Homo sapiens: one gene and its partner. The protein of the gene in region 1 purifies or fractionates together with the protein of each later gene. This does not show direct contact. Each region holds a gene or a part of one and is shown on either strand. Other genes may lie near its edges.

The links. Proteins that work in one complex are often made in the same cells at the same time.
Region 2: the proteins of ARPC1A (region 1) and NCAPG purify together in Homo sapiens (affinity purification with mass spectrometry; 3 studies listed by BioGRID and IntAct, with this or other methods). This does not show direct contact.

What each region holds. Positions count from the first base shown.
Region 1 is NC_000007.14:99,341,558-99,347,203, forward strand, and holds part of ARPC1A (actin-related protein 2/3 complex subunit 1A), read left to right. Parts: intron 1-2,735; coding exon 2,736-2,958; intron 2,959-5,646. UniProt on the Homo sapiens protein: Probably functions as a component of the Arp2/3 complex which is involved in regulation of actin polymerization and together with an activating nucleation-promoting factor (NPF) mediates the formation of branched actin networks.
Region 2 is NC_000004.12:17,820,979-17,824,478, forward strand, and holds part of NCAPG (condensin complex subunit 3), read left to right. Parts: intron 1-2,004; coding exon 2,005-2,145; intron 2,146-2,668; coding exon 2,669-2,792; intron 2,793-3,500. UniProt on the Homo sapiens protein: Regulatory subunit of the condensin complex, a complex required for conversion of interphase chromatin into mitotic-like condense chromosomes.

The DNA of each region.
Region 1 (5,646 bases):
GAGATTGTGCCATTGCACGCCAGCCTGGACAATAAGAGCAAAACTCTGTCTCAAAAAAAAAAAAAAAAAAAATTAATTGGAATTTTAGAATTTAAAAGGAAATACTTTTAAATGAGAAAAGGCAAAGATGAAAGACCAAAGAAATCGCCAAAAATGTGAAATATTTAGTTATGTGTTTTTTTCCCTCTACTTCTCTTTTGGGGTCCTTTGAACTTGGGCCTGTTTTCTGTCTAGCTGCTCACATGGCATTTTTTAGATCTGAAATAACTTGTTGGAAAAATCTAAATATAACTCTGGGGCAGGAGATCAAGGATCAGACATATTTTCTCAGAAAGATAGTAATTTTAGGGGAAAAAAATATTTTCTGAAGCATTCTAGAAGAAAAAACTAGTCCATACTACAAAGAAAAGAAGTGTGGCAAACATCAGGGATATCAGAGTTCTGAGGTTTTATTCTTTTGTATTAAATATTTTTAAGAAACATGTTTTGTTACCATGGAAAATTTTAAACAGATTTTTAAAAAAGTGGAATAGTATAATGAGCCTTTTATACCCATCACCTGCATTCCACGATTATCGAGTAACAGCCAATCTTGTTCTTCTCAATTCACTTTCTCCTTTCCTGTACTAATTTGAAGCACATCCCAGACATTATATTGTTTCATATTTCAGTTTGCATCTCTAAAAGATAATGATTTTTCTTTTTAATAATAATAAATATTGATCAGGCTTACACCTGTAATCCCAGTGCTTTGGGAGGCTGAGGCAGGCAGATCACTTGAGCCCTGGAGTTCAAGACCAGCCTGGGCAACATGGTGAAACCCCATCTCTACAAAAAATTAGCCAGGCATGGTGGCTTGCACCTGTAGTCTCAGCTACTCAGGAGGCTGAGGTAGGAGGATTTCATGAGCCTGGGAGGTTGAGGCTGCAGTGAGCTATGATCACGCCACTGCACTCCAGTCTAGGTGATAAAGTGAGACCCTGTCTCAAAAAAAAAAATCTAATAAAGAGGACAGCAAGCAAAATTATCTTGTAATGAATAAATAAAATAAACATCACTTAGAACACATTCTCATATTTTCTTCCCTTCAGTGGTACAAAAAATTGAGCTGATATTTCATGTGGGTAAATGAATGAATAAACTAAACTCTTCATACTACTTTTTTTTTTTTTTTTTTTTTTTTGAGACACAGTCTCGCTGTGTCACCCAGGCTGGAGTGCAGTGGTGCGATCTCGGCTCACTGTAAGCTCCGCCTCCCGGGTTCACACCATTCTCCTGCCTCAGCCTCCTAAGTAGCTGGGACTACACGCGCCTGTCACCACGCCCGGCTAATTTTTTCCATTTTTAATAGGGACAGGGTTTCACCGTGTTAGCCAGGATAGTCTCGATCTCCTAACCTCGTGATCCGCCTGCCTCGGCCTCCCAAAGAGCCACCGCGCCCGGCCTAACTCTTCAGTCACTATGACTTATGGGTAATTGAGGCTCAGAGGTATATTTGTCTTTTTTCCATATAAATGTCAAGAATGCTAATTATTAATTTTTAGAGAGAGATCTGTAATAAATATTTATTAGTAATATTTCTGTACTTTTTAATGTGAAATTATATTTATAGAAAATACCTCATCAAGGCCAGGCACTGTGGCTCATGCCTATAATCCCAGCACTTTGGAGGCTGAGACAGGCAGATCGCCTGAAGTCAGGAGTTCGAGACCAGCCTGGTCAACATGGTGAAACCCCGTCTCTACTAAAAATACAAAAATTAGCCGGGCATGGTGGCATCTGCCTGTAATCCCAGCTACTCGGGAGGCTGAGGCAGGAGAATCGCTTGAACCCGGGAGGCGGAGGTTGCAGTGAGCTGAGATCGTGCCATTGTACTCCACCCTGGGCTGCAAGAGTGAAACTCCATCTCAAAAAAAAAAAAGAAAGAAAAGAAAAGAAAATACCTCATCAATAAGTGTTAAATGAGTCATGGTGAATTTTGCTCTTGGTATATAAGAAACTGACCTTGAGTCTTGGTATATGAAAAACTGACCTTGACTTTGGGATTCTTCACAGAGGTACCAGATAAGTAAAGTCTCATCAAATAAGAAAAATAAACCTTACATTCAGATACATATTTAGGTATCTTCCTGGTTTAGATGCAAAGAAACAAGGATTCTTTCACAGGACCTGCATCATGTAGAAAAGGTTTTCAGTATGGTTCAACTGGCAGTGACTTTCAGAAGAATATATGATGAATCACAATATATAGTTCCCCCTCTTTACACTAAAGATTATTTTTATTTACCCTGTATGCTGTTTTAGTTGAATGCCATGTAGCAGACTGTTGGTTAATATCATAGAATGAGGTGTGTTAATGAATACAGTTATTTTCACACACACAAAAATCTAATAAAGAGGAAAGAAAGAAGTAATGAATCTTCAGATCTTTAGAAGTCTTAGAAATGTGTGAATGGGTGGAAAGAATGGCCCCGTTTAGTTTTGTAAAGTCTGTAATTATAAAACAGCTCTTCTACATGACCTCATAGACAATCCCGAGTCCCAGACGCTTTGCAGAGAAGCATCCTTGCCTTTCCTTGAGGCGGTGATCAGGACATAGATAGTGGGAAGGATGTGCCTGGGAGGAAGGTCCCAAGACCACGTCTCATCCTGGCATGCCAGTGCCACCCACCTGCCTGTGCCGCAGTTGTTTGTCATTGACTGGGCAAAGCAGATGACCCATGTCTCACTTGCAGGTATTGACTGGGCTCCCAAGAGCGACCGCATTGTCACTTGTGGGGCAGACCGCAATGCCTATGTCTGGAGTCAGAAAGATGGTGTTTGGAAGCCAACCCTGGTGATCCTGAGAATTAATCGCGCAGCTACTTTTGTGAAGTGGTCCCCCCTAGAGAACAAATTTGCTGTGGGAAGTGGAGCACGACTCATTTCTGTTTGTTACTTTGAGTCTGAAAATGACTGGTGAGTGACATCTGAATTTTTTCTATCCCTCTCTATAGAATTTACATTTGCACTGCTGTGTGAGGGCTCACCATAACTCCAGTTTTTCTCATCCGGAGTTGTGTGGTTTTTTCTCTGAAATTCTCGATTCTGTCTGAGCATTTTCCCTTCTCATGTGCATGTTAAGTTAAATCGCACGTTTTTTATATTAACATAGAGCTATTGTGTCCATGTTCTGATCGCCTAACTTGTTTCTTCTGCAAGATGCTATTACTGTTCTCACTCTATACTGCGCAAATTGCTGTTTTCTTACTCTCATTTACAAATAATAACATTGAAAGAGTCTCCGTTCCCTGAGGAATATTTTTTCTTTTTTTTTTTTTTTCACAGGATATCTATGTAGGATTCCTACAGATAACAATGTTCTTTTTTTTTTTTTTTTTTTTTTTTTTTTTGAGACAGAGTCTTACTCTGTTGCCCAGGCTGGATGGAGCGCAGTGACACGATCATGGCTCACTGCAACGTCCGCCCCCTGGTTCAAGCAATTCTCCTGCCTCAGCCTCCTGAGTAGCTGGGATTACAGTCACCTGCCATCGTGCCCGGCTAATTTTTGTAGTTTTAGTAGAGACAAGGTTTCACCATCTTGGCCAGGCTGGTCATGAACTCCTGACCTCATGATCCACCGCCTCGGCCTCCCAAAGTGCTGGGATTACAGGCGTGAGCCACCACGCCTGGTCAATGTTCCTTCTTTAAAGCTTATTTGCCAACCAAATCTGTGTCTTGGTGTAATATTTTACTTGTTTAAACTGTTGAAGTCAAAACTCACCAGAATCTTAGAAGTCTAATCAGCTATTGCACATTTTTTAAATTACTTCTTGCTGACCCAGTCAAAACACAGGTTTATTTTATGGCCAAAACTTATTTTAACTACTCCTTCCTGTTTGTTTTGATAAGGAAACAATTATTCTCCAGCCTGGCCAAGATGGTGAAACCCCATCTCTACTAAAAATACAAAAATTAGCCAGGCACAGTGGCAGGTACCTGTAATCCCACCTACTTGGGAGGAAGCAGGAGAATTACTTGAACTCGGAGGGCAGAGGTTGCAGTGAGCCAAGATCGTGCCACTGCACTCCAGCCTGGGCGGCAAAGTGAGATTCTATCTCAAAAAAAAAAAAAATTATTTTTCTGTGTGGCATGTGTTCAGCATGACTGGTAAATATCCTTCAACGTAAAGTTGTCATTTACTACTAAACTGGCAGTGTTTGTGTTTCTACTAAAAATAGCAGAGTATACATGACTCTTTGTAGCTGTTTTGTTATTTGTATTCTGCTGAAATTGAAAGAAGGGGATTATCATGTTACCTTTGTAATTTAGTAAAACTTCAGAAATTTTATTCTTCAAAAAGAGATTGGGAATTTGCGGTAAAATTGAGTTATGGGCCAGGTACAGTGGCTCATGCCTGTAACCCCAGCACTTTGGGAGGCCGAGGCAGGTGGATCACCTGAGGTCAGGAGTTCGAGACCAGCCTGACCAACACGGATAAACCCTGTCTCTACTAAAAATACAAAAAAATTAACGGGGTGTGGTGGTGCATGCCTGTAATCCCAGCTACCTGGGAGGCTGAGGCAGGAGAATCTCTTGAACCCAGTAGGCAGAGGTTGCGGTGAGCCGAGATCACGCCATTGCACTCCAGCCTGGGCATCAAGAGTGAAACTCCGTCTCAAAAAAAAAAAAAAAAATTGAGTTACGAATTTGAAACATACATTTTTCTTTCAAATGTGAAATCAAGGCTAACAAAATGTTACCTGCTAGAAACTATTTGGAAGTTTCATTGTAATGAGATAGGAAACTAACTTCATTAATATTCTCTCAAGGCTAAACTTTATGTCAGCTGGTACTCCTTGCAATCTTACAAATTTCTACAGGAAACTTTTCTTCCAAGTTAAGCTTCAACCTCAGTAATTGTTTACATTTTTATTCGTTGAGAATTAGTGTCAAGTATAGGTAAATTGGACTTTATTATGGTACAAGGTATTGTCTTTGAACAAGCTGTATGTTTAGGGCAGTTTCTCAGCTGTAGAACAATTATTTCATATTTCATAGGAGTACTTTAAAACAACTTCTCAGAAGTTTATAATTCAGCCATATGAACTAATTATTTTGCTTGCCATCTTTTCCTTAATTAAAAAAATTACATTATAAAGGCCAGGCACGGTAGCTCACGCCTGCAATCCCAGCACTTTGCGAGGCCAAGGCAGGCGGATCACGAAGTCAAGAGTTCGAAACCATCCTGGCCAACATGGAGAAACCCCATCTCTACTAAAAATACAAAATATTAGCCAGGTGTGGTGGTGCATGCCTATAATCCCAGCTACTTGGGAGTCTGAGGCAGGAGAATCGCTTGAACCAGGGAGGTAGAGGTTGCAATGAGCCGAGACCATGCCACTGCACTCCAGCCTGGGCAACAGAGCAAGACTCTGTCTCAAAAAATATGTATACATTATGAAACAATTCGAAATACTGTCTTTTTCTCCTTTTTTAGAGACTTTGTGGGGGATTTTGGTTTTTTATTTTATTTATTTATTTATTTTTTGAGACAGGGTTTCTCTCTGTCACCCAGTCTGGAGTACAGTGGTACAAACACGGCTCACTGCAGTCTCCAACTCCTGGGATCCAGCAGTCTTGCCACTTCAGCCTCCCAAGTAGTTG
Region 2 (3,500 bases), on another chromosome or scaffold:
TGAGTGGTCTCTTCATTATAATAAATGTCTTTATAAATGGTTAGGATTTCATGGTAACTAAAATTGGTGGGTCAGTTTTAAGTTGTATTTATGCAGTTGAGGATTTTTAATCTATTAATTAAACAACTGTTTGAATTTACTTAAAAAAAAAAACTCAGTCAAGATGCTGTGCATTTTGCTAAAGCTGGGCTGGAGAAGTGGGGAGAGATACAAAGATGAGTATAAATGAAGGTTTTCTTTTAGCCTGTCAGAAAAGAGTAACTCTACTGATTGGTTGATTTTGATAGTTATCGGTAGTGTAGTTTTCCTTAGTTTCCTACTAGAACCCAAAGGGTGGCTGATGTCTTAAAAGTCCTAATCTTGTGGCCAGAAATTTATGAGCTTTTATTTACTCTTGGTCATCACTTTGTAATACATGAGAGTATACTCATTATACATTATACCACAATTTCTGTAACTTGGTTTTTGTCACCCCCGCCTTTTTTTTTTTTTTTTTTTTTTAAGAGACGTAGTCTTGCTTTGTTGCCCAGGCTGGAGTGCAGTAGCGTGATCTTGGCTTACTGCAGCCTCTGCCTCCCAGGTTCAAGCAATTCTCCTGCCTCAGCCTCCTGAGTAGCTGGGATTATAGGTGCCTGCCACCACATTTGGCTGGTTTTTATATTTTTAGTAGAGATGGGGTTTTACCATGTTGGTTAGGCTCTTCTTGAACTCCTGATGTCAAGTGATCCTCCCGCCTCAACCCCCCGAAGTGGTTGGGATTACAGGTGTGAGCCACTGTGCCCGGCGACATTTTTGACATTTTTTAAATGACATTTTTGATCAGGATTGTTTTTCATGTTACTTCCATCTTAAAGGCACTTCGCTGTCTAAGCTTCAATTCTTAGTTCTGCTTTTAAGTAGCTTTTTTTATTCCACACAAAAAGCAGAGGCTACTGAATATACAGCCTTCTTGGTGAGGATTATAAAGGGCTTTAGTTTGGGTGGTGATGTCTGTAGTAAGAATAAAAAGTTAAAATAAAAGGTAGCTGATGGTGGTGGTGTATACAGAGATTAGTAGGGTTTCTAAGAAAGAATAATAAAAATTTGTGAAATTGTTTCTATTTTTCTGATTTTTTTCAAAAAAGATAATTGTATTCATGGATTACTTGTGTAACTATTGTTACAATTTTTAAAAATAAAAGAATGATAATTAGGCATGATGAAGATTAAATCTTTTTTTTTTTTTTTTTTTTTGAGATGGAGTTTTTCTCTGTCACCCAGGCTAGAGTGCAGTGGTGCGATCTCGGCTCACTGCAACCCCTGCCTCCTGGATTCAAGCAATTCTTCTGCCTCAGCCTCCTGAGTAGCTGGGATTACAGTAGCCACCATGCCTGGCTAATTTTTTTGTACTTTTAGTAGAGACAGGTTTTCACCATCTTGGCCAGGCTGGTCTCGAACTCCTGACCTTGTGGTGCACCTGCCTCGGCCTCCCAAAGTGTTGGGATTACAGGTGTGAGCCACTGTGCCCGGCTGAAGATTAGATCTTTATGACTAATTGGATTTTTGGGTAAGGGATTCAGAACTTGATAGATGCTTCTTGACTTAAAGTGGGGCTATGTCATAAGTCAAATGAGTTTAATTCTCAGATAAACTCATCCTAAAGTTGAAAAATTGTAAGTTGGGCCACCTGTAATTGGGGACCATCTGTAATTGGGAGAATGCTAGTGACATTGAAATAATTAGTTATCAGTTAGACATAAATATGTACCTTTTGAAAATTTCCCATAGAAAATTTGAGTCATTATTGAAAATACATTTTCAAATTCTTTTGATTCATCAATAAGTTTGTTTGCAAAAGTTAATGACAGTGGCATAGAATTGAGTTTGTAGACCAAATTACATGGCATAGATATGTATTTAGACGAATATGACCTGAAAATGGCCCTTTTCTGACCTAATGGTGGGAATCAACTCTTGTTTGATGTTTCTTAAAAGATTCTACTTTATTAATTCTGCTTGTTTTAGTTACATCCAGAGCATTCCAGTTGTTAATGAAGAACACAGAGGTGATTTTTCCTATATTGGAAATTTGATGACAAAAGAATTCATAGGTCAACAATTGATTCTAATTATTAAGTCTTTGGATACCAGTGAAGAAGGAGGAAGGTATGTCTAAATGTTAACACTCATTCTAATTTGCCCTTCTAATTTCTTATATTGAAATATAGTCCTTTTACAATATAACTAAACATATTTACCCTAGCTCTCTAAAGTGGTATAAAAAGTTTTCTTTTCCCTTCTACATATTTCCATATATACACATACATTTATATTTCTAGTTCAATTTCCTCAGAATAAATCAATGAAATTGCAGTTTTTGGTTAAAAGTTTCTGTTTAGATTTATTAAGGCTAGTAGCATTTTCTAAAAGGTTTAATCATTTCTGGTATTTTGTCATTTTATCATGTTGATTTATTAAAAATCATAGGGTGTTTTATAAAAATTTTTTTTTGTGTGGAATAAGAATATTTGACCTAAAGTCTGTACATACAGATTTTTGTACCTATTATAGTGATAAACCTAAGTGAAAGAACTGAGGCAAATGTAATTAAGTTTGCAGAGTAGGTGAATGTTAGAGATAAAACATGTTTTGTCATAATAATATTTAAATTAGTTCTTTTTGACTGCAGAAAAAAACTGCTGGCTGTTTTACAGGAGATTCTTATTTTACCCACAATCCCAATATCCCTGGTTTCTTTTCTTGTTGAAAGACTACTCCACATCATTATAGATGATAATAAGAGAACACAAATTGTAAGTAATTTTCCTCATTGTTGATAAAGAGGTTTTGGTCAATGACATTGAATACTGTCTTATTTTCTGTTTAGAACTTTTTGTTTTGTCTGTTTTGTTTTAGGTTCGTCTCTTTAATGAGTTTTAAAATTTCTTAAAACCATTATCTATCTCTTACATACACAGAATATTTGAAAAATGTCACCTTCTTCCTCTTAGTGTACCTGTTATTGTTGAATCAGTTTGAAATGGAGCAGGTTTGGTAGGAAGTTACAAGTGGGGATATGGTTTTGTCCATGAGGCACTGGGTGCTAGTGTTTTTGAGAGCTTACTCAAATTGTACATACTAGGGTTTAGAATCTCATCTGACACTTTCTGGCTTTGTGGCTTTGGACAAGTTATTCTGCTGTTTTACTTGTCTGCAAATAAGAATAGCAATGAAATCTACCTTTCATTTTTCAATGAGGTATTGTTCATAAAGGTATTGTTCTGTATTGCTTGATAAATACAGAAATAATTGTTTACTATAATACTATTTCAGTGTTATTTTTTTCTGGCATAGCCAAAAAAGACAGATCTGTATCATTTATTTCATAAAAATCACATAATTTCAGTTGCAGGTTAATTCACAGATCATCTCTTCCATCCTCTCCTTATATATACACCCCTTCTACAACATGCTTAGTTGTTATTCAGCATCTGCTTAAATACTTTCATTTGGGAGGCAGC